3 separate regions of the Homo sapiens genome follow, and all the other regions are linked to region 3. Evidence: fine-mapped expression QTL. A gene starts in region 3. Each other region holds a variant in brackets. All regions are shown on one strand. Distances are between the middles of the regions.

Region 1 (8,188 bases), 27 kb after region 3:
AATATCCAAACTATAGCACTTGCTTTTCATGTTTTCAGTTCATTGCTACCAAAATCTATTGCAAACTAAAAAAGCTTTACCAAACAATAAAATAAATATTTATAGACTTACAATAAATGACCAAATTACTGTACCAAGAGATTATATTCTCTACATTATACAGTAGAAATATCATATATAGCTAACCTTTCATTTGCCGTATTTCCTGTTGACCCTGCTGACTGTTGACTGGTAATTTCGTGCATTGTCCAGTCTGTGGTATTTGCCATGACAGAGCTGGCTAGTTTACCAAGTGTCTGGCAGAGGCTGCGGCTTCAAAACTTCTCCCATCACCACCTGAAACTGCAAAGAGTTGACTGTCTTAGCCACTCACTTCCAAATGTACTTGGTTTTCTCAGTGAGCATACTATATGCTGTTTGAAAGGGAGATGTTAGTTTTACTAAATATGGAAAGGCTCTAGAAAAGGTAGCTATTGCATATTGTTTTAAATATATAACCATGCGCCTGACCAACTGACAAGCTGGGAATACAAAGAGTAGATCTAACTCATCTCTGATTATTTTAATGCAAATATTGATACAAATACTTTGATAAAAATAAAAAATCCTGGACAAATGCTAAACAGGAGTAAATGAAGATTGTCCAAGCCAAATTTTACTTGAGGTCACTTGTATGCACACACATGCACACACACAGACACACACGCAATTGGCTCCTAATTGGCCTCCTTTAATCCGTTCTTGCTTTCATTCCAAGCAGTTTTTTCCAAAAGAAAGAAACAAGAATCAGAAGGGCAAATAGTAACAAAATATCTCTATAACTGACCACATGAAGAGGTGCCCTGAACTCGCAAAGACAAGCATCTATTCTGTGGGTTTAGTGTAATCTTAAGGCAAAAAGCTATTTATCAGTTTTTCAGGCATGATGGCAGTAGCCATTATAATCATCCATCTAATGTTTTGGGTTCACAGTAACTTTCTGATTATAACATTGCTTCTGACACATATTTTCCCCAGGAAGAGAATGTGCTGATTAGCAAACATGAGTATCCTTTCTTCTTGATAACGCAATTCTTTTTTTTTTTTTTTTTTTTTTGAGACAAAATCTTCCTCTTGTTCCCCAGGCTGGAGTGCAATGGCACGATCTCGGCTCACTGAAACCCCCACCTTCCAGGTTCAAGCGATTCTCCTGCCTCAGCCTCCCGAGTAGCTGGGATTACAGGCGCCTGTCACCATGCCCTGCAAATTTTCGTATTTTTAGTAGAGACAGGGTTTCACCATGTTGGCCAGGCTGGTCTCAAACTCCTGACCTCAGGTGATCCACGCACCTCGGCCTCCCAAAGTACTGGGGTTACAGACGTGAGCCACCGTGCCCGGCCGATAATGCAATTCTTATTTTAAAATAACAAATGGGCTCTCTGGATTAATAAACAGTCAAAAATATTTTGAATACATATTCCTTTGGAATATTGCCTTCTATCTTTTCCTGTTACAGTACATTCTAGAAAGAATAGCCTTTGTCTCTGATTTCTCACTAATTCATTTATTCAAAAAATGTTTATACAGAACGCAATACCTGATGGTGGGAAAACTTCCAGAACATACATTTAGACAATTTTTGAAATAGGACCAAGTCCTGTGTACTTTCCATTGCATTACAACTTCTTTAGCTTTGGAAATATTTTCAATTAATGCAATGAAAGTGAATGGAGTGCTTAATCACTTCATTATTTAGGGATTTTTGCCTTTGATTCAGTGACAGATTGAATATTATTGAAACTGTGATTTAAAATGCTGAAGAAATTAACCAGAAAACATATTGCTAATCATCCTTTCATATCTTTTTCTATTTTCAAAAAAATTTTCCAAACTACAGTACTTTATAATAAAGTCTCTTATTTCTACAAAATCCTGAACTGTGCCTGTTCGTTTAACTGACTCACTCAATGGCCAAATTGCAACATATAGATTCTAAAGAGAATTTAAGATGTGAAAAAGTTGAATATGATTTGGGCTGCCTTTCTTTGGAATTTATTTATTTCCTACGCCACCTGAAAACCTTTAAAACTTCCAATATACTAGGTTTTTAATTCCTTGAGCATCTCTGCTCAAACTCTTAATGTGCACACAAATCACCTGGGCTGGGGATCTTGTTAAAATGTAAATCACAATTCAGCAAGGCTGAGGTGGGGCCTGAGAGTCTGTATTTCTGACAAGCTCCCAGGAGTCGTGGATACTGCTGATTCAGGGATGCATTTGAATAAGAAGGCTCTAGAAGACAAACCAAAATGCTAATAATTTGGAATGTTTTATGAATGTATCAAAAACATACAAATTTTGATAAGTATCCTTGGTAATATATATTGATGTGCTCTCAGGGGTAATCTGTGGGCCCAGCATTGCCTAGGAATGTAGGACCATCAAAATGAGCTTTCTGTTTTAAAAACAGAGTATACCCAAATTATTACAAACCAGTAAGTTAATCACTTGATGTGCGTTATTATCAGGTATTTAGGTATGTACAACTGTGTTAACATAAGTGATACATTTATGGCTTATCTAGTTTTCTTGGCTGTGAACGCTAAACTCAGTTTGCATACCACGTTTGTGAAAATATTTTTAAATATGGAAAGTAGTCAAGAATTCATGAACAATAACATTGATGTCCAATGTGTATGTACTCTTGTATGGTTACAAACGATTTATTACTATAAATATTTGTTACTTTCCACTTGGTTTAATTATTGGATACTTAAAAGAAATTTTCTATTATGTAACAGTTTAAAAATAACTTGTTGTATTTTCTATTTTTAAAGAAAAACAATCTAGTATAAAATGAAAATTATAAAATATCATGAAAGTAATGTTTTATTATCAATTAATATGTTGAATGAAGTATATAAGGTCTTTCAGCCCACATACTGCTTCTTCCAGCTCCCAACAAACATCAAAATGCCTTGATATTACCCTGCTATTTTAAGAAAATGGGCACTTAAATAACTCAGTTCTTCTATTTCTATGGTAATCAGAATGCTCAATTTCTATTTGATTTTTAAGTTAAAGCAGTCTCATTTGCATACGTACAATAAAAGTTTTTGTGTGTTGCTAGGATCATTTCCATAATTCTATATTTTTCATCTTATCATTCTTGACCCTGACATTGTGCTATAATTTGCAAAACTAAAATCCATTCAGAAATAATCATTGGCAGAAAAAGTAAAAGCCAAGAAGACAGATACCACATTTAATGCAACTTTGCTTTTTCACAGTAACCCAATGGACAGGAAGAAAAGCATCACAAAGTGGTTCAGCATAATGGTAGGATTGATTAACTTGCTAGAAATAGACAGAGTTTTTATCCAAGTTTGGATTGGCTCATACCAATTACTGTATGATTTCACTTGGAAATGGAGCCAGCTACAAGTAGCTATGTGCCTAAGCTGAATACAAAAATTGTACCTATGCCATTACTCTCCCTTTTTGTCTAGAATACACTTATATACATAGCAAAAGCAAGGATAAATAGAAACAGCAATACTTATAAAAATACTTTTTCAATTCTTCCTGGAATGTTTGTGTTTTACAAATGTCTCTATACATTTTATTTTTTGTAAACAAGAGTCTTATTCTGCGTGTCTCTTAGTATTCTAGCAAACATTTGTGCCATGTTCAATTATGAATGCATTCCTTTAATTGAGACGATTGAATAAATTATATGCTTAGGTGATGAAAGCACTTTCTTTTCTAAATAAGCAGTTTGATATAAAATACTTCAGTAAGTAACTTATCTGTATTTTACTGAATTTAGAAATTTATATCAGGAACTTTTATCTACAGGAGCTACATACTTCTTGTACTAATTTTTTTCTGGAATAAGACAGTGTGACCAGATGAAGTCAAATATAATTTCCATGCAGCTTTTTCTTACACTCTGAAGAGCAAGCACTTAGGCAAATAAAAGCAAAACTGTACCTCAAAAAGCCACATCCTCAATGGATGTCTTTTAGAGGAAGCACTATTTTTTTTTCCAACCAAAACAGGATACTTACAGCCTTCAGAGATAAAATAGCAGAACTTACCAGTCTCTTAGCATCTGAAACCACAGTCTGTACCTGTCATTTATTGTTTTGTAAATGAACTAAAAATAGAAGATGGATGGGCTGTGTGAAATCCATAAATTCTGTTAATGGCCTACTAAGAAGCCATGTGTTTAGGACACTCGATGTTACTCAATGATTCTCTTTCCATGTTGTTTTAAAGAGAGCTCTTAGAGCACTTGCTTATTTTGTCATTTTATTGCTACCTTGACTTCAAGGTAAAATAATGATTTTAGCTTATTTAGTTTCTTTCTATAAATGCACTCAGCACATGATTTTGCCTTCTAATTCCACAGAAAGTCAAGAGTTCTCAATTTCCTGTCCCTCCTCACTTAACTCCATGAAAACAAAGCTGCGTCCACATCAGTTATTTCTCTTTCTAGTCTCAGGGGCTGTGCTTATGTCCAAAACTGATGCTAATCAATGTTGTTCTCTGGATATTTGTACACCCTCCTGCTCAAGATAATCTCTCTACCAATTTTCTCTCTCCCCTCTTCCTTTCTCTCTATCAGCTCTCTAACTCTTTATTGCTATCACTCCATCTCTTTATCTCATCTCTATCTTTCCTTTTGTCCTATATTTTCAACTTCCTCAGCTCCACTGGCTCTTTCAGACCCTTTGTTTTCTGAGTGTAAGCACTCTTAGTCACTTCTGTTCTGAAAGTATTATAACTGCCCCTGTTTCCTTCCTTTTGAAACAAAACTTCTTGAAAGGGTAGAGCACTCTAAACATATCCATTTCTTCACTTCCAATGCAATCATGAGCCTGCTGCAATTTGGCCTCTGACAGTATTTAAGACACCAAAGATGACATTAACTCCCTCCACATAAAACAGTTTCTAGGTAATATTTAACTTGGATTATGTGGCATTTGCTAGACAGTTGAGTATTTCCTTCTTAAACTTTCTTTTTTTGGCTTTCTTTT[T/G]CGTTTCCTACATCTCCTTCTATCTCTCACTAGTCTTGAAACAAAAATATTTAAGTAAAATTAGTAGCAGAGCTGAACAAATTCTTAGACATAAAAGAAAAATGAATGCCAATCTGATTTAGAAAAAAAAGCCGTCAAACTGCCCAGACCCTAAAATTATATATGAAAAGCAGTCATTAGCTAAACTTCTAATTAGTTAAATATATAAAACTATAATTTTATTTTCAATTATCACCATAGGAAGAACTGTTTTATTCTACTCACATGTCATTGGGTGGAAAATACTGCTAGTGTTGCTTGAACTGAACAGGCCAGGAGAAACCACTGAACAGGGAGAGGCAGCCAAACTTTTACAACATTGGTAATGATTATAGGGAAGAGGTGCTAGACTCTGGATTGTGTCAGTTTTCTCTTTCTCAAAAAAGGAAGGTTTAAAAGGAACTAATCTGAGACATTTTTTAAAAAAGCAAGTTAATATTTCTGTTCCTGCTAAATTCTACATCCAACTTTAATGAGGAAGAGGATATTTGTTTCCTAAGATTGCCTTAACAAAGTACAAAAACCAGGTAACTTATAATGACAGGAAGTTATTTTCTCACAGTTCTTGGGGACAGGAGCCTGAAATCAAGATGACAGCAGGGCCATGTTTCCTCTGAGGCTCTAGGGCAGGATCCTTCCTTATCTCTTCTAGCTTCTGGTGATTGCCGTCAACCTTCGGTGTTCCTAGGCTTGTTGACGTATCACTCCAACCTCTGCCTCTGTCTTCACATTCCTTCCATTTCTCCTGTGTGTGTATCTATCTCTGTGTTCCAATATCCCTCCTCTTTGCCACCTTCCTCTTCCTCTTCCTCCTCTTCTTCTTCTTTGTCTTTGTCTTGCTCTGCCACATAGGCTCTGGAGTGCAGTGGCATGATACAGCTTACTGTAGCCTCAACCTCCTGGGCTGAAGCAGTCCTCCTGTCGCAGCCTCCTGAGTAGCTGAGACTATAGATGCATGCCACCATGCCCAGGCCTGGCCGATTTTTTTTTTGTAGTAGAGACAAGGTCTCCCTATGTTGCTCAGGCTAGTCTCAAACTCCTGGGCTCAAGTGGTCTACCTGCCTTGGCCTCCCAAAGGGATTGCAGGCATGAGCCACTGTGCCTGGCCTACCTTCTTTTTATAATGGCACCAGTCATATTAGATTCAGAGCTCACTCTACTCCAGTATGAACTCATTTTAAGTTGATTACCTCTGCAATTTCCAAATAAGGCCACATTCATGGGTTCTCAGGAGACATGTATTATATGGGGATACTATTTAACCCAGTATATTTTTTTTTAAAAAAATGACTGATCACACAGTATTTTTCTGCCTCTGCAAACCTCACTAAAACAATATTAAAACAATAAAGTAATAAAAAAGAGCTACCATAACAAATACAAAAACAAAGATACCCATTGGAAACTGACAATACAGGAAATAGTTTTTAAAATTTGAAAATAATCTAATATTCTCAATGAGATATTACAAGAGTAGGATGCTATGGAAAGGAAAGAAAAGAGAATAAAACTATGATAGAAATAAATAACATTATAAAAGGACTGAAAGATAAAGCCAAGGACCAAAACTTAACACACACACACACACACACACACACACACACACACACAGACACACACAAAATGTGAAAATAGTAAACATAGAAAAGAAAGGAAAAATTCGTGAGGTTCAGCAACTATTTTATATAAAATATATAGAGAAAAGAAAAAACAAAATAGATTAACTATCAAGAACTGTAAAAAACAATTTTTAGAAAGACATGAATCTCCAAATTGTAGGTGTCCAGCACAAGTGGCCCATAAAAAAATAAAGGCAGACCTCACAAATCACATAAAATGTGACATTTCAAAATAACGAGCATCAAGAAGAAAAAGCTTCTAGAGAAAATAACAAAGGTCACCTACAAGAGACAGGAAATCCAAATTGCATTAGCCTTCTCAAAAGCTATAATGAAAGATAGAAGACCTTGGAGCAATGTCTTCAAAATTATTGATGAAAATGATATTTGATGAATAATTTGATAGCCAAATTATCAATCAATGATGAGAATAAATTAAAGTCATTTTTAGAAATGCAGAAATATATGTCAGTTACTAATTCATGGGAAGCTATTGGAGGATATACTTGAACAAATAAGGAAGTAAATTAAGAAAGACAGAGGTAGTATTCAGCAAAAATGATCAATTCTAGAAAAATATCAGTAAAATTTTAAGGATGACAATAAAGGGAAATTCCAGGACAACTGCTGTGTGGCTTTCCTAGAGAGCAACCTGTCCACAGTGGATCAGAAGAATGGAGAGCTCCAGTCAAGTATTCTTGATAGAGACAATTTCCTAAACCTGATAAAGGGCAGCTACAAAAATCTCACAGTCAACACCATGCAAAATAACAAGAAAGGATGTCTGCTCTCACCACTTTTAGGCAGTATTGCACTAGAGAGTCAAGCCATGGCAAGTAGGCAAGAAAAAGAAAAGCATCCACACTGGAAAAGAAGAAGTAAAACTAGTTCTCTTTGCAGATGACATGATGTTGTATATATATAGTAAATACTAAAAAGCCCACTAAAAACTATTACACGTTTACAAGAGCAAATAATAAACAAGGTTGTAGTATACAAGATTAATATAAAAAGATCTATTTTATTTCTATATACTAGCAATTAACCACCTGCAAATGAAATTGAGAAAATAATTCCACTTACTCTAGTATCAAAAAAATAAAATTCTTAGAAATAAATAACAGAAGTGCTAAATGTATATTTTGAAAACTATGAAATAGAGTTGAAAGAAATTTTAAAAAACCTAAACTTATGGGTTGCAAGGTTTACTTATTGTTTGGATTATTGGATTATGTATTATTTGGATATATAATAAAGATGACAATGAATGTTTGTTATTCATTATTATTTATTGTTAAGATAGCAATTATTTATTAAGATAGCAGTATTGTTAAGATAGCAGTACTTCCCAAACTTATCTACAGAATCAATGCAATTCTTAACAGAATAACAACAAACTTTTTGCAGAAATTGACAAGCTGATTCTAAATTTCATATGAAATTGCAAGAAACCCAGAATAGCCAAAATAATTTTAAAAAATGAAGAGCAAAGTAAGCAGATTCACATTT
Region 2 (8,188 bases), 190 kb before region 3:
TCATATCAGCCAGAGTTTGGTCAGAAAAGTGAAAGACACACTAAATATAATAAGCCAGAAAAAATTAATAAAGCAAACTATAACCTTACAAAACAATTTGAAAACCTGGTTTGGAAGAGACAGCAAAGATCTGTTAGATTCAAGAAATTGGGAAGTAAGGAATTGCAAGAAACCACTACTTATTTCCTCAGCTGCCTTCAGCATCAAAGTGGGTGATTCAGCTGGATAATATTGGGAAAATGCAGGCAAAAATTTCAATCTGCTTTATTATAATCCTACAAATCTACAAATCAGCTGCTTACTCACTAATTGTGCTTCCTTCTCTTTTTTTCTGCTAGGAGACTGTTTTCCATGGGTCTCTCACATTTCTGGACATCTTGCAAATGAAGGCACTCACTGACTTTATTTCAAATTATCTTTTGAAGGATGTTTATATAGCAAATGACAGAGAAAATGTCTCTCTCTAGGGTGAAGACCAGATAGAATTACTGCTCATTTTAAAAGATTCAGGTACCCTATGTTTAGAATTCCTCTCTTGTACCCCACCCCATTATGTGTGCAGGTATTACCCAGACTTCTTTGTATTATCCTGTAGATTTGTGTCTTCCAGAACCAATGCAAATGCTGATACTCTGGTTTTTGCTGTTCTGAATAATAAAGTCATTAATATCTAGCCTAAGAGTCTCATGTCTTCTGGCAGCTTCCATGAAGCAGTGGCAGACTAACATGATAGCTTGCAAGAAGGGTAAAACTTCAGATGTTTCCAGTTCTTGATATTGAATTTCATTAGTCGTAGAAGGACCTTTGTTTTCTGCAATATAGAAAAATATCACAGAAACAGGCAAACATAAATAAATATTGGCTGCCAAGCCCGTTCTTTAAAAATCATCTAACAGCTCTTTTTATTCACGTTAACTTTACAAATGCTATTGGTTTTGTTTTTTAGATCATTCATACCTCATTCATTTTATCTTTTATATTTATTAAATCCTTACTTATAAATTCTCATTTATATATATATGGAACAATTAAATTGTTACTCTCTACTTGGCTTTAATTTAAATTAGAAGCAAAAACATACGTTGTCTCTAACTGATAGCAATTTTCTTTTATTGTTTTTTCCTAACTCCTTAAGTTGAATGGTTTGTATATTTGAAAACTAACTATAACTTTAGTCGCATTTCATAGCTTTTTCTTTGAAGTATCCTTATTTTAATAAGTTTCCAAGTAATTTGTCCTGTATAATCTTATTTCTTCTTTTTATTTTATTTTATTTTTTAAGTTCCAGGGTACATGTGCAGGATGTGCAGGTTTGTACATGTGTCATGGTGGTTTGCTGCACCTATCATCCCATCACCTAGGTATTAAGTCCAGAATGCATTAGCTCTTTTTCCTGATGCTCTCCCTGCCCCCCTGCCCTCCTACAACAGGTTCCATTGTGTGTTGTTCCCCTCCCTGTGTCCATGTGTTTTCATTGTTCAGCTCCCACTTATAAGTGAGAACGTGCGGTGTTTGGTTTTCTGTTCTTGCATTAATTTGCTGAGGTTAATGGCTTCCAGATTCATCCATGTTCCTGCAAGGGACATGATCTTGTTCCTTTTTTTTTTTTTTTTTTTTTTTTTTGAGACGGAGTCTCGCTCTGTGGCCCAGGCGGGAGTGCAGTGGCGCAATCTCGGCTCACTGCAAGCTCCGCCTCCCGGGTTCACGCCATTCTCCTGCCTCAGCCTCCCGAGTAGCTGGGACTACAGGCGCCCACCATCACGCCCGGCTAATTTTTTTTGTATTTTTAGTAGAGACGGGGTTTCACCGTGTTAGCCAGGATGGTCTCGATCTCCTGACCTCGTGATCCGCCCGCCTCGGCCTCCCAAAGTGCTGGGATTACAAGCGTGAGCCACCGCGCCCGGCCGATCTTGTTCCTTTTTATGGCTGCATAGTATTCCATGGTGTGTATGTACCACATCTTCTTTATCCAGTCTATCATTGATGGGCATTCAGGTTGATTCTATGTCATTTTTATTGGGAATAGTGCTGCAATGAACATACACATGCATGTATCTTTATAATAGAAGATTTATATTCCTTTGGGTATATACCCAGTAATGGGATTGCTGGGTCAAATGGTATTTTGGTTCTAAAATATTGAGGAATCACCACACCGTCTTCCACAATAGTTGAACTAATTTATATTCCCACCAACACTGTAAAAGTGTTCCTATTTCTCCTCAACCTTTCCAGCATCTGTTGTTTCTTTACTTTTTAATAATTGGCATTCTGACTGGAGTGAAATGGTATCTTACTGTGGTTTTGATTAGCATTTCTCTAATGACCAGTGATGTTAAAATTTTTTTCATGTGTTTGTTGGCCACATTTATGTCTTCCTTTGAAAAGTGTCTGTTCATGTCCTTTGCCCACTTTTTAATGAGGTTGTTTATTTTTTTCTTGTAAATTTGCTTAAGCTCCTTGTAGATTCTGGATATTAGACCTTTGTCTGATGGACAAATTACAAAAATATTCTCTCATTCTGTAGATTATCTGTTCGTTCTGTTGATAGTTTCTTTTGCTTTGCAGAAGCTCTTTAGTTTACTTAGATTCCATTTGTCAATTTTTGCTTTTGTTGCAATTGCTTTTGGTGATTTCATAATAAAATCTTTCCCCATGTCTATGTCCTGAGTGGTATTGCCTAGATTTTTTTCTAGGGTTTTTATAGTTTTGGGTTTTACATTTAAGTCTTTGATCCACCTTGAGTTCATTTTTGTATAAGGTATAAGGAAGGAGTCCAGTTTCAATTTTCTGCAGATGGCTAGCCACTTTTCCCAGCACCATTTGTTAAATAGGGATTCCTTTTCCCACTGCTTGTTTTTGTCAGGTTTGTAGAAGATCAGATGGTTGTAGATGTGTGGTTTTATTTTTGAGTTCTCTATTCTGTTCCATTGGTCTATGTGCCTGTTTTTGTACCAGCACCATGCTGTTTTGGTTACTTTAGCACTGTAGTATAGTTTGAAGTTGGGTAGTGTGATGTCTCCAGCTTTGTTCTTTTTTCTTAGGATTGTCCTGGCTATATGAATCTTTTTTTGGTTCCATATGAATTAGTAAATAGTTTTTTTCTAATTCTGTGGAGAATGTCAGTGTTAATTTAATGGGAATAGCATTGAATCTATAAATTGCTTTGGGAAGTATGGCCATTTTCAAAGTATTAATTCTTCCTATCCATGAGCATGGAATGTTTTTCCATCTGCTGTGTTTTATCTGATTTCCTTGAGCAGCACCTTGTAGTTCTCCTTGGAAAGGCCTTCACTTCCCTTGTTAGCTGTATTCCTCTGTATTTTATTGTCTTTGAGGCAATTGTAAATTGGAGTTTATTCATGATTTGGCTCTCTGCTTGTCTGTTGTCGTGTAAAGGAATGCTTGTGATTTC[T/C]GCACATTGATTTTATATCCTGAGAATTTGCTGAAGTTGCTTATCAGCTTAAGAAGCTTTTGCGCTGAGACAATGGGGTTCTTTAGATATAGGATCATGTCGTCTGTAAACAAAGACAATTTGACTTCCTCTCTTCCTATTTGAATACCCTTTATTTCTTTCTCTTGCCTGATTGCCCTAGCCAGAACTTCCAATAATATGTTGAATAAGAGTAGTGAGAGAGGGCATCCTTGTCTTGTGCCAGTTTTCAAGGGGAATGCTTTTGGCTTTTGCCCATTCGATATGATATTGGCTGTGGGTTTGTCATAAATAGCTTTCATTATTTTGAAGTATGTTCCTTCAATACCTGGTTTATTGAGAGTTTTAAACATGAAGAGATGTTGAATTTTATTGAAGGCCTTTCTGTGACTATTGAGATAATCACATGGTTTTTGTCTTTAGTTCTATGTATGTGATGATTTATATTTATCGATTGGCTTATGTTGAACCAGCCTGGCAGCCCGGGTTGAAGCCAACTTGATCGTGGTAGATGAGCTTTTGATGTGCTGGTGGATTCTGTTTGCCAGTATTTTATTGAGGATTTTCACATCAATGATCATTAGGGATATTGGCCTGAAGTTTCATTGTATCCCTGCCAGGTTTTGGTATTAGGATAATGCTGGCCTCAAAATGTTAGGGAGGAGTCCACCCTTTTTAATTGTTTAGAGTAGTTTCAAAAGAAATGATACCAGCTCCTCTTTGTACCTCTGGTAGAATTCAGCTGTAAATCCATCTGGTCCTGGGCTTCTTTTGGTTGGTAGGCTATTTAGTACTGCCTCAATTTCAGAACTTGTTATTGGTCTATTCAGGGATTCGACTTCTTCCTGGTTCAGTCTTGGAAGGGTGTATGTGTCCAGGAATTTATCCATTTCTTCTAGATTTTCCAGTTTATTTGCATAGAGGTGTTTATAGTATTCTCTTATGATTGTATTTCTGTGGGGTTGATTTCTTCTTCGAAGTAATGGTTTTTAGAAAGCATATTTGTGATTCTTCCCTTTCATTCAAAATTTGAAGAGTATTTGCACAAAGTACTTGTTATGCCAAATGTTGAAGAGGAGAGAGCAGTTTATCTGAAAGAACTGTAAATTTTTGCATGTTTGAATTAAAAAAAGTTGATTTAATGTACAGTACACATCAAAATGCATAATGTTTTGCAAAGAGATAGTTCTTTTAGATCTTCGTACTTGCCCTAGATCTGTAAGATGTTTTATGTCGTTTCCCCCAACATTCTTTAGAATTGAAGTCGGTACAAAATTTCTAAAAGGTAATTTCATAGCATAAACAAAAAAACGTTTAAAATTTGATCAAAAAATTCTACTTCTAGTACTATATCATAAGGAAATAATTGCACATGTTGGCAAGGATATATTCAAGAGAATAGTCATTGTAGAGTTCTTTCATTAGTGAAAAATTAAGAACAACTCTAATATTCATTAATAGATGCTTAAGTGAAAAAAGTAATAAATCCACTATTTGAATTCTGTGTATTACTGAGAATGAAGACTTACATATCAAAAAGGAATGGAAATGTGTTCATGATAAAGGATTGAGTTATATGAAAGCAGATTTTGTTCCAACTTACAATTAAAATATGTGCATATTTTGTAGTTATGTATGTATGAGAAGTATGAAGACTCCACATCAAAAAGGTATTAGTTACTTGTCTCAGTGTTTTGATTATAGATGAGTTTTCTTCTTTTGCTTTATTTTCTAATTTTTTCTAATGAATGTATATTATTTGTGCAATATATATAACGTTAACAACAAAAGTTTTCCCTTTCTTTCTTTCTTTCTTTCTTTCTTTCTTTTCTTTTTCAATGCAGGATCTCACTCTATCACCCAGATTGGAGTGCAGTGGCACAATAATGATGCACTACCTTGATCTCCCAGGCTCAAGTGATCCTCCAGCCTCAGCCTCTCAAGTAGGTGCCACCATGCCCAGCTAATTTTTTTTTTTTTTGAGACAGGATCTCACTCTATTGTCCAGAATGGAGTGCAGTGGCATGATCATGGCTCACTGAAGCCTTGACCTTCCAGGCCCAGGTGACCCTCTCACTTCAGCCTCTCTGGTAGCTGGGACTACAGGCATGCACCACCACACCTGGCTTATTATTATTTATTTATTTATTTGGTAAAGATGGGGTTTGGCTGTATTGCCCAGACTGGTCTTGAACTCCTGTGTTCAAGTGATCTGCTCACCTCAGCCTCCCAAAATGCTGGCATTACAGGCATGAGCCACCATGCCCGGCCCTGATTTTTTAAAAAATTTTTGTAGAGACAGGGGTCTCACTATATTGCCCAGGTTGGTTTCAAACCCCTGGGCTCAAGCAATCCAAAGTGCTGGGATTACAGGCACGAGCCACTGCACCCAGCCCCTTTTCTGTGTTTTCAGTGTGTAAAAAGTTGCCAGCTGCTACAGATGTTTACAGAAGGTAGTTAAAAGAGACAAACTGTATGAATTAGAAATGTTCATTAAAACCTGCCGAGGCCTCACAAGATGAAGATTAAAAAAAAAAAATTTGTCCAAGCAAACTGCAAGATCACAAGCAAGATCCATGTCTTACCATTAGTATTACAAGCAAGATCTATGTCTTACCGTTAGTGTTAAGTAATCTGAAATGCCTTAAGGGTACTAAGGCAATCATATTAAAGAATGCTTTACTTTTTACTTAATTAGAGCCAGATTTTAATTATGGGGAAAAAGTAGGGTCATGGCTTTTCTCAGTACCAAGCTTCAGGAGGAGGGTTACATAATTTGGAAAACAGAATCTAAATGTTCTCTGTTTTCATTTATATAAGAAATTATAAAAATAAATAAATCAATAACCCAAAGAGGCCTCCATTGCTAAATAGATGCTGCTAACCTAAGATATACAACATAAAATCCTCATGGATGTTGCCCTTCTTGAAAAGTAGCTTTCCTGTTTTCCTGCAAATTTAGGAAATATCTGAAAGTCCCCATTGTGAATGAGGGTGCCTAATTGTCTGGGGCTTTTACCTTTGCAATTTCATCCTCCTAAGACATCATTTCCTTGAATCGTAGTCTTGGTTCCTACTGGGCCAAATTCCACTGGCATCAATCCAAATGCCACGAACATTAGAAACATTCACATGGATCCAACATTGTCTACATACTTTCTTAATTGGATAATTGTCATTCTGTACCTGGACTTTGATGTTGGCAAATTGCCATTGAATTTTTCTATAAGTATGTGTCCTCTGCTACCCATCTGTAAACTAGCTTCTGTGTTTCCATTGCGGTTATATTAATCACAGAACTCTATCACCAAGATCTAGCTCAATGCCATTACCATCTCACCATCTTACTAATATATTGGCTCAATGACCATTTTTCAGTGCCTCAAAAAACATTTAATCCATTTACATTGTTTCTCCTGCACAGAGACAATAGTTGAATCAATTTTAACAAATAAATTCAGAAGCAAAAAATTACATGGCATATCTTATTTCTAGTTTAAAACAACCAATACCAAAGTTATCAACCAAATACAAGACAGCAGACTACCTAATAGAAAATATATATTCTAAAGTCAGAAATTTTTTTTTCTAAAACAGAAACACAAGATTTCCCACTCTTCACCCCACTTTACTTTTACATAACAAAATTATTTCTTCCAAAGAGTCCTAAAGAATCTCTCTCCTTAGACTCTCTGTACAGCTGGTTCCCTTTGTCAAAGAAAAATGAGACCCTAACAATAGTTAAGGTGGTAAAAACAGGATTTACTTGGAAACTACTTCAACAGGGGAAAAGATATCTCAGTATAGAATTGGGCAAAATTATGAATACAAGGAAAAGTGGGAATTTATGGTTAAAGAGCGTGTAGTTGGTAGATGGAAAATTATTAAGAGGAACACATCAGAGGTAAAGATAGATTTTGGCTGAACCCACCTATTATGATTCTTGCTGAAGGCAGGCCAGGGGATCAGACATCAACTCAGGGATGGTATGGACGAAGAGTTTGGTCAGATTAGAGGGTAACTAGATATCAAGGGTGGGGGGTTCTGGTGAACTTACTTAGCAGAATTCTTGCTAAAATTAGGCTCTTGGAGGATATTCCCAAGGACAAGGCCTAGTGGGGCTCACAGCAGCCGACTAAAATTTGGTCCAGGGAAAAATCAATGTCAGTTCTTCCTCTTGTTAAAGGGAAGAAGATACATTCTTCTTTCCTTGGAACAATGTAAGTGCATTTCTTTTTTGGTTGCCTTTTATTCATTAAGGATTAGCTGAACCATCTCTTGGAAGCTGCTAGTAGAGGATATTTGCTGAATAGTGCTAACAGTCAGGAATACAATGAAAGGAATTTCTATGAAAATTAAAGTAAAACAAGGATAAGTAGTTGGAAACTTCGTTTGAGTCCAGGGACCAGCCAATTGAGAAAATTTCTAAATGTTTTTCTCAAGGACGAAAGTGGCAGTCCCACAGATGTCCTTGTCTGTGTTTTGAATGTCTTTGGTGATGGCATCAGGAGTTCTGATGAACTTTCTGAGTGGCTCACACAGAAGCAGGCACAAGGTTTGCCCGTACATGATCTATTGCAGTGATTTCTTCAAAGTTTATATTAAATCACCCAGCTTCAGAAAAGAGCAGTTTTATTTCTTAGTAACTCCAAGTCAGGAGGCTGGGAGAAAAATTGGAAACTTTAGTTTTCAGAATTGTAGCCACGTCAGAGGAAACCAGAAGAATTGAGAACCCACAAGGGTACACTATAGGTT
Region 3 (8,179 bases):
CATAGCCAACATTTCTCAACTAGGGGAAGTCACAGGGCAAGTTCAAAAGGAGTGAAGATTAATGATGCAGCATCCCAAAGGGCTGCCTGGTGGCAGCAATAGAAAAATATCCACCAAACAGAAGAAATCCAATCCCTCAGCTCATTTTCCCCCAAACCTGGAATATTTAAACCAAGCTGAAGAAGGAGACAAGGGTGTGGAATTTTGTATATGAGGGGGAGTGGAGCGGAAGGAAGGACAGTGAGGTGGAATAAATGAGAATACTGCTCAAAGCTTTGGAACAGAAAATAAATTCATGATCATTTATTTGTATGTCAAATCTTATGTCCTCCAAATACATAATAAAATAATATTTCATAAGTACAAGTAGTATACTATAGTTACCTACCGAAATAAAGCATAAGCTTAATCTTACTGCCCTTAAAAGGATGATAAATTAAAACATTCTCAAAGATATAACAATAAAAAATAATTTCCTCAACAATTAGACATTATTATATAAAAAACTTTCATTATTACTTACTTCTTTAAAATGTTTCTCTATTAAGTATTATCATCCTAATAAGCATAAAAACTAAACCTAAAAGACAAACAACCCAAACTCTGGCCTGATTTCCTTAGTGTCAATGATTAGACTAGCTCCTCTTTTTTTAAGGCCTAATTCACTGCTCAGTATAGTGAAATACCTCTGATTTAAATCATATAGACAGTGCCAAAATCTTTACTAATAGTGTGCAAGTCTCATATCTAAATTACTCAGCCCAGCTGTTTAAAATGACAATACATTCCTTAAGAAAAAAATGCAATATATTTAACAGACTGTCTTAAAAGTACTTTAGAGATTTTATGCCTTAAATTTAAAAAACATCATGTGATGAGAAAAACAGAATAAGTGAAGATGAACACGATCTAATGTAAATGGCTGTGACACTGGTTATACGTTACCTAGAAACGATTTTACATTTCTAGTTTATTCTACTGCCGTGTTTTACATGGAATTATTTCATTTAGCTGCTTACACATATGCTTTAAGGATTCAAAAAAGAACCAAAAGGTCACAATTTACTACTAAAGTCAAATTAGGAAAACAATGTTTTCGAACATTCCAAGAATTGAATTTCTGGAATAAGTAAGCCAGAATTCTGTTTACAGGACTAGGGTGATGGAACTCTGGGCAAAAGGGTAGACTAGAACGGGGATAAGACAGAGGAGAGTGCTGGGCCAGCAGGGACAGCCAGGATTTCCAGAGAGGAGAGAGGTAGGGAAAAGCAAAAGACCAAAGCTAGAAAAGACAGCCAAAAGAATTCAGTCACTTAAAGATTTCTAAAAATCATTCTGAAATATTTCCAATGGTACCAGTACTGGTTTAGAGAAATAAGAATTCTGGCCGGGCAAGGTGGCTCACGCCTGTAATCCCAGAACTTCGGGAGGCTGAGGCGGGCGGATCACCTGAGGTCAGGAATTGGAGACCAGCGTGGCCAACATGGTGAAACCCGGTCTCTACTAAAAATACAAAATTAGCCGAGCATGGTGGCACGCACCTGTAGTCCCGGGTACTCGGGAGGCTGAGGCTGGAGAATCGCTTGAACCCAGGAGGTGAAGGTTGCAGTGAGCCGAGATCGGGCCACTGCACTCCAGCCTGGGCGACTGCGCAAGACTCCGTCTCAAAAAAAAAAAAAAAAAAAAAGAAAAGAAAAGAAAAAAAAAAAAAGAAAAAAGAAAAAGAAATAAGAATTCCATAATTTCTTCTGAAAATGAGGCCTCTGCTACATCTTTCTCTGAACTCACTTATGATGACTGTCAAGATTCAACTTCTGGTTCTGTATTATACATTCAGTTATATTTAAGTCTTAATCTAGAACAGTGGTCCTTAACTAACGCTGTATTTTGCCCCCAGAGGACTTCTAGCAATATGTGGAAACACTTTTGGAGCTCACAGGTTAGGGGGCTGCTACTAGCATCCAATGAGCGGAGGCCAAAGATGCTGCTGAACATCCTACAATGCACAAAAACAACCTGGAGAACAAAGAATTACCCAGCCCCAAATGCCAACCGTGCTAAGATCAAGACACACTGATCTCTTCTGAACATAAGCAAAAGCCTACTCCTGGGACCTTTATTCTAGTCCATCCCTAACAGTCACCTAATTAAAGGACAAAACACCACCACCAGATGATTCATTTTTCAATTGCTTTAAACATGGTGGATGGCTGGCTCAAACTAAGAGTCACACAGAAATACACTGAAACAACGTATCACACCAGGAGAGCAAAAACTGCAAGAAAAAAACTTCTTAATCCTCTTATTTCATATCTATCTCACATTCAATTCACAAGAGAAGTACATACACTAACCTCATCAAAACACAGTATTTCTTATTAATGTAAAAACTTAGGCAAACAACATTAACTGAGAAAGATTTATGTTGGGGGCGACAGGGTGAAAAAAGCCACCCAGGTCTTTAAAATGCAAAGTTATTTCACAGTTTACTTGCAAAATGACTCAGATCATTATTACTTTTAGTCATGCCAACTTTGCTGCTCCCAAGCCTACTAGTAATGGAGAAAAAAAACCCACCATTTTTTCTGCAGTCATTAAACCAATGAAACAGAAGCTTACTGAAAACAGGTTTGTGCAACATTTCTTTTTTATTATAACTGGTATAAAAATACAAGCAGTCCTTGGAAATGCAAATGAAGATTCTGAGAAATTTTTCATCTATCTAAATACCTAGAGTGTGAGAAGAAAACATGCAAACAAAAGAAAACCCTAACTCACGAATCTTAACCTGTAAAGATTTTCCTAATGCTTCCCTCAGTGAAAACCCTGGTTTACTCTTTATTTTCTTCCCCGTCAAACATTTGGAAAAGACCTCCACGTAGCGTTTCACGAACAGAACAGTGCTAAGAACAAATAAAAGCCTTGCGTGTACCTGGCAAATCTCATTCATCAGAAACGGTGGCAGCGGAGACAGAACCCTGTTGTCTGGCGTGACCCTCTCGCTCTTTCACAGCAGTTTTCACCACTCGAGTATCTGCCTTGCCTACTACTAAAGCAAAGCTTCCCAACCCCACTTGGGTGGCTTCCATGCCCCCACAGCAAGAAAAATCAAGCATCCAGCGCAGCCTTTTCTCAGCGCAGGGGGAATGTAATCAGCGCTCCTTGACCACTTAAGGAGTCGCCATAGGAAGTTAACAGGAAAGACGCTTCAGCCCCATCTCAGAGGCCCCACAAAAGGTGCACTGATTTCACCAAACGTGGCACTCTGGGCATGAGAAAACCACAGTCGAAACACAACCTACACCGCACACGAAGAAGGGTTTTCCGGGAGGGGGTTGGTGGCGCGGGGGGGGGGGTGTTTTCATTTTCTAGCCGCGAATGCCCCTTCATCTTTACAAGGCTGAGCTAAACTTCAAAGCAAAGGGTTTCCACGCGACCCGCCGCCTCGGACTCGCGCCTGGGCTCTTTGCTGGGTCGCACGAAAGCATCCGAGTGAAGTGACGCGCCCGCCCCGCCGCGGGGAGTCCTCGCCCGCCGGGGCGGAGAGAGACCAGACACCGGGAGAGGGGGACCCGCCTTGCCTCCGCACCGCCGGACCCAGCTCCCGCTCAGAAGCCTCCTCGGGCGCTTCCTCCCCCTTCCCTCCGGGTTTCCAAACGCCGAGGGCCGCGCAGCGCCGCACCCGGTCCCCCGCCGACCCCCGGGCCCCGACCCGGCCGCCCTTACCGAGCAGCAGCAGCTTGACCTCGCGCGCCGCCTTCTCGCCGTCCTCACGGAGGTTGCGGTCGATCATCTTACTCCGCTCCACCGCCGCCTTGTCCTCGGCGCTCAGCGTGCAGCCCATGGTGCCGAAAGCGAGAGCCTGCCGCCGCTCCCTCCGCGCCCGAGTGCGGGCTCCAAGCACAGGGGAATCCTTTCTCTCTCCTAGCGGGCGTTCGAACGCCTCCCGACGGGGGCCACGCCGCCCCCACCACTTCCTAAGCGGAGTCGAGGGAGACGCTGTCCGCAAAGGGGCAGACAGCAACGGGCGGCTGTTCCTCACGACCAGGCTCTGCTTCCCGGCCCGGCTCAGCGCCCCCAAGTCCCGGGTTTGGGGTTTTGAATCTCTGGGTACAGTGGCCGCTGCACTCCCGCCGGTGGCCGCGCCGCAGCCTCGCCAAGCCCAGCCGAGCTCGGCCTCCGCGCGCCGCCGCGGCCCCGCCCCTGCCCGCCCCTCCCACCACCCCGCGACCACTCCCAGAGCGCGCGCCCGCGCACGTGCCCTCGGACAGCGCCCCCCGGCCCCGGACCCCGGCGCCGCGCCACCACTGAGGGCCTGGCGCCCCCTGGCAGCGTCCCCGGGGCGCGCCACTGCCCCGCGGGGCTGTGGCCTTCTGCCCTGGGCGGGAGTGGGGTAATTTCTTTCCGTTTACTCACACGGAGGGAGCTGTGCGTACCTGCCCCTTCGGGTGGGGGTGGGAGAGCTGCCAAAGTTGCCGAAAAAAGCCAGTTCTGGGCGTTTGAGCATGCCCAGCGCCGGCAGCCACGCAAGGTTTTTCAAAATGCAAATCCCTGTCGGCTGGTTTCAGGGCCGTGAGAAACAGGGAACTGGGGAAGGAATGGAGCCTGGTGAAACCAGAGATGGGCACAGTGGAGAACAGGAAAGTCGGGGGAGGGGACTAGAAAAGGGCACCAAGGTCACTTTCTTCCTACCTTTTGCTTCTCTTTCCTTCTTCCTATCCCTCCCTCTTTCCTTGCACTCTCACGTTTTTCACAAGAACGCATTTTGAAGGATTTCCTCGTAACCTAAAAAAAATGGAAGACAAATAATCAAAAGTATTTTTAAATGACAAGAGCAATAAAACACACCCACACAAGCCAATCTCCACATCGTAGCAGATCTCCTCTAGAGCAGCACATAAGCTTCCATGCCAAATTTGGAGCCAATATTTATGACCGTGTTTGTAACTCCTGTACCATTGGGCATGCCATTTTTACAGGCCTTAGCTTCTTTGCCCATAAAATGAGGAGTGGATCTATGGTGCTATCTCCCCATCCTTCCAGCTGTAACAATCGGCGGAGATAAGTTCCTGTGGCCCGCGGGAGGCATTGCTACTCAGCACCCAATGAATGAGCAGAGGCTTAAGATCTCATCTCTCCCTGTCAGTTGCACTACACCTTTCCCCTACAGATATCACAGGAAGCGTTAACTGATTAGAAAATGGGGCTGGTAGCAAGGAAAAACATGGTCCTTGATGTACTAAAAATTGGAACATGCTCCCTGGTTTTCATCTGGAAATCTTATTCTCTAAAAATCATTTGGGAAAACTGGGCTTGAGTTTTCCAAGGTGAGGCTGAACTGATGATACAAGCAGAATAGCTTTCGAGTAGGTCACTGAGACCACGCTTGTGAGCTAGCAGAGACTGAGTTGCCTCCTTATGGGACATGTCCTTTCCTGTTCTCCTATGGGAGTCACACCACCTGCTGGGCTGATGAGATGCAATTTCAAGATCTGCCTCAACTATAATCTTTTGTAATATAACAACAAAAAGGAACAATCTTTAAATGTACTTAGTCACCTTCTACACTGTAATTCTAGGCACTCTAAATGCTAATGTGTATCAGAACTCTGGAATTAAACTTAAGGAAATCAAATTTCAACACACTGTGTATTAGCCATTCTTAATTATCTTTTATGGTGAGTCTTTCCTATTAAGTTCGGACCAGAGTGTGGAACCAACAGTTTCAGCAAAAGAAGAAGCAGTGCTGGCTGAATATTGGTAGAAATGACTACAAAACTTGTGTTTCGGAGAAATGAAGTATGTGTAACAGAAGTTTGTCAAATAGGTAACATTACTTCCATCCTTTGAAGTTAGTCAAATAGGTGAGTTAAAATGTGATACATAAACGAATAAGAACAGCAAATTAGATTTATATGTAGCACAATTCCTAAGAGAATGCAGAGTAATGAACTGATCAGTATGGGGGGAAATTCTAAGATAAGAAAGTTTTGAAAAAACGTTTGAAGGAAATGATAACAGGATATTGGTGGGGAGTTTAAAGAAGTATGTATTAGTTCAGGCTGCCCTAAAAATACCATAGCCTGAGTGGCTGAAACAATAGGAATATATTTCTCACCGTTCTGGAAGCTGGTAAACCTAAGATTAAGGTGCCAGTTTATTCAGTTCCTCAGTGAGGGTTCTGCTGCTGCCTTGCAGATGGCCTCTTTCTTGCTGCGTCCTCACATGGCAGAGCAAGAGAGAGAGAGCTTGAAAGCAGTCTGGTCTCTCCTCTTCTTATAAAGGCCCTGTCTTAAAGGCCCCACTCTCAAGACCTCATCCAAATCTAATTACCTCCCAAAGGTTCCATCTCCAAATACCATCGTATTGTGGGTTAGGGCTTTGGAGACATTCAGGCCATAATAGGGTATATTTTGTTTGAGGGGAATAACCAGCTAAACAGTTAATATGCAAGATACGTGAAAGAGAAAACAATGGTTTTATAACTGAAAGTTGTTTGGTTGTGAAGAATGATAGGATGTGTGGGACAAAGTTGGTGTGAAGAATGATGGGATGTATGGGACAAAGTTGGAAGACAGCTTTAAATGCTAAGGTGAAGGGTTGGACTTGATACAGTGGGTACAAAGTGCTCCTTACATTCTTTCCTGAGTTGGGTACTAGATGTTAAAAAGCAAAGAAATAAAAAAACCCTCTTACCACTACATGTAAAACAAATGGGTACCAGCAAGTGAATTGTGTTAGTAATCCAAATGTGAGGTGGTGAGAGTCACTCAAGCTAATAACTTATGTAATTATGATGTTGCAAAATATGATTCAACCTTGTCAAGGAGATGAAGCAGATATTATTTATTTATCTCTTTTATACAGAGTGAAATTGAAATTATAGAGGTTAAAGCACTCTACTTCAGAATACTGTTTTTTCTTTTCAACATCATGTTTGTTTTTTAACAGCTTTTTTTTTTTTTTCCCTCGGGTTCAAGCTTTTTTGAGATATAAGTCATATGCCATAGAATTTGCCTATTTAAAGTGTACACTTCAGTGGCTTTCAGTATATTCACAGAGTTGTGCAACCATGATTACAATCAATTGTAGAATATTTTCATCACCACAAAAAGAAGCTCTGCATTCCTTAGCCATCATCTCCAATCCTTTATCTTTCCCCAGATCTAGACAACCGCTAATCTAATTTCTGTCTCTTTAGATTTGCCTATTCTGACATTTTATATAAAAGGAATCATATAGTGTACAGTATTTTGTGACTGGCTGCCTTCAGTTAGCATAAAGTTTTCAGGGTTCATCCATGTAGCATCCACCAGTACTTTATTTCTTCTTATTTCTGAATAATACTGAACATTATATGTTAAGAGAGTTAGAGACATATGTTAAAAGACAAATTAGAACACATTCAGCTGAGAGCCTCAGGTTTTCAAAGTAGCTACAAACTATGTCATAAGGAATAATTGAAGAAATTGGGGGATATTTAATGTAGGAATGAGAAGATATGACTGAAGAGATGTCATAAATCAAAAGGAATAGACTTTTTTAGCTGGCTTCAAGGTGGTGTTGAAACCTGTAGCAAACAAAATTTTGCCTTGCTATGTTGTGAATGGGAGACTTACCATATGGAATTAAGAAGTAAACATGGAGAATGCAGAAGCTGAATAAGGAGACTTTTTCAAGAATCTTAACCATGGAGAGGGGTTGACACATGGGATGGTAGTTGGAGAGGTAGGTTTGGAATTTGTTTCATTTCACTTGTAACTCTTCTCAAATATTATTCAACTGAGAAAAAAGGATTGCTATTGATATGGTTTCACTGTGATCCCAACTAAATCTCAGGTTAAATTGTAATAATCCCCACATGTCAAGGGTGGGACCAGGTGGAGATAATTGAATCATGAGGTCAAATTCCCCCATACTGTTCTCCTGGTAGTGAATAAGTCTCATGAGAGCCAATGGTTTTATAAGTAGGAGTTTTCCTGCATAAGCTTTCTTGCCTGCTGCCATGTAAGACGTGACTTTGCTCCTCCTTTGCCTTCCACCATGATTGTGAGGCCTCCCTAGCCATGCTGAACTGTGAGTCAATTAAACCTCTTTCCTTTATAAATTGCCCAGTCTTGGGTATGTCTTTATTAGCAGCATAAGAACAGACTGATACAGTTATGGGACAAAGGAAAAA

Which allele goes with the higher level. Positions count from the first base shown, and alleles are read on the strand shown. Sizes are in standard deviations (SD) of each study's normalised expression. Not every link is listed here.
As copies of T replace G in region 1, the expression in lymphoblastoid cells of the gene that starts at base 4,174 in region 3 goes up (moderate effect, 0.50 SD a copy in TwinsUK).

Evidence for each region. PIP is the estimated chance that this variant, and not a neighbour inherited with it, causes the effect.
Region 1: its variant is the best candidate, but not a certain one, in a credible set for the expression of GNAI1 in lymphoblastoid cells (TwinsUK, PIP 0.66).
Region 2: its variant is the best candidate, but not a certain one, in a credible set for the expression of GNAI1 in left ventricle (GTEx, PIP 0.62).

Annotation. Positions count from the first base shown.
Region 1 is chr7:80,103,377-80,111,564 of GRCh38, reverse strand. No RefSeq gene overlaps it. Among named protein-coding and RNA genes, the nearest start is that of GNAI1, 27 kb to the left of the region's middle. The variant T/G (reference allele first, on the strand shown) is at 5,022.
Region 2 is chr7:80,322,678-80,330,865 of GRCh38, reverse strand. LOC105375373 (a long non-coding RNA gene) reads left to right here. Exons shown (of 5, transcript XR_007060401.1): 5 at 339-673. Among named protein-coding and RNA genes, the nearest start is that of GNAT3, 190 kb to the left of the region's middle. The variant T/C (reference allele first, on the strand shown) is at 3,416.
Region 3 is chr7:80,130,826-80,139,004 of GRCh38, reverse strand. It overlaps GNAI1 (G protein subunit alpha i1), which reads right to left and starts at 4,174. Exons shown (of 8, transcript NM_002069.6): 1 at 3,727-4,174. The coding sequence starts at 3,844.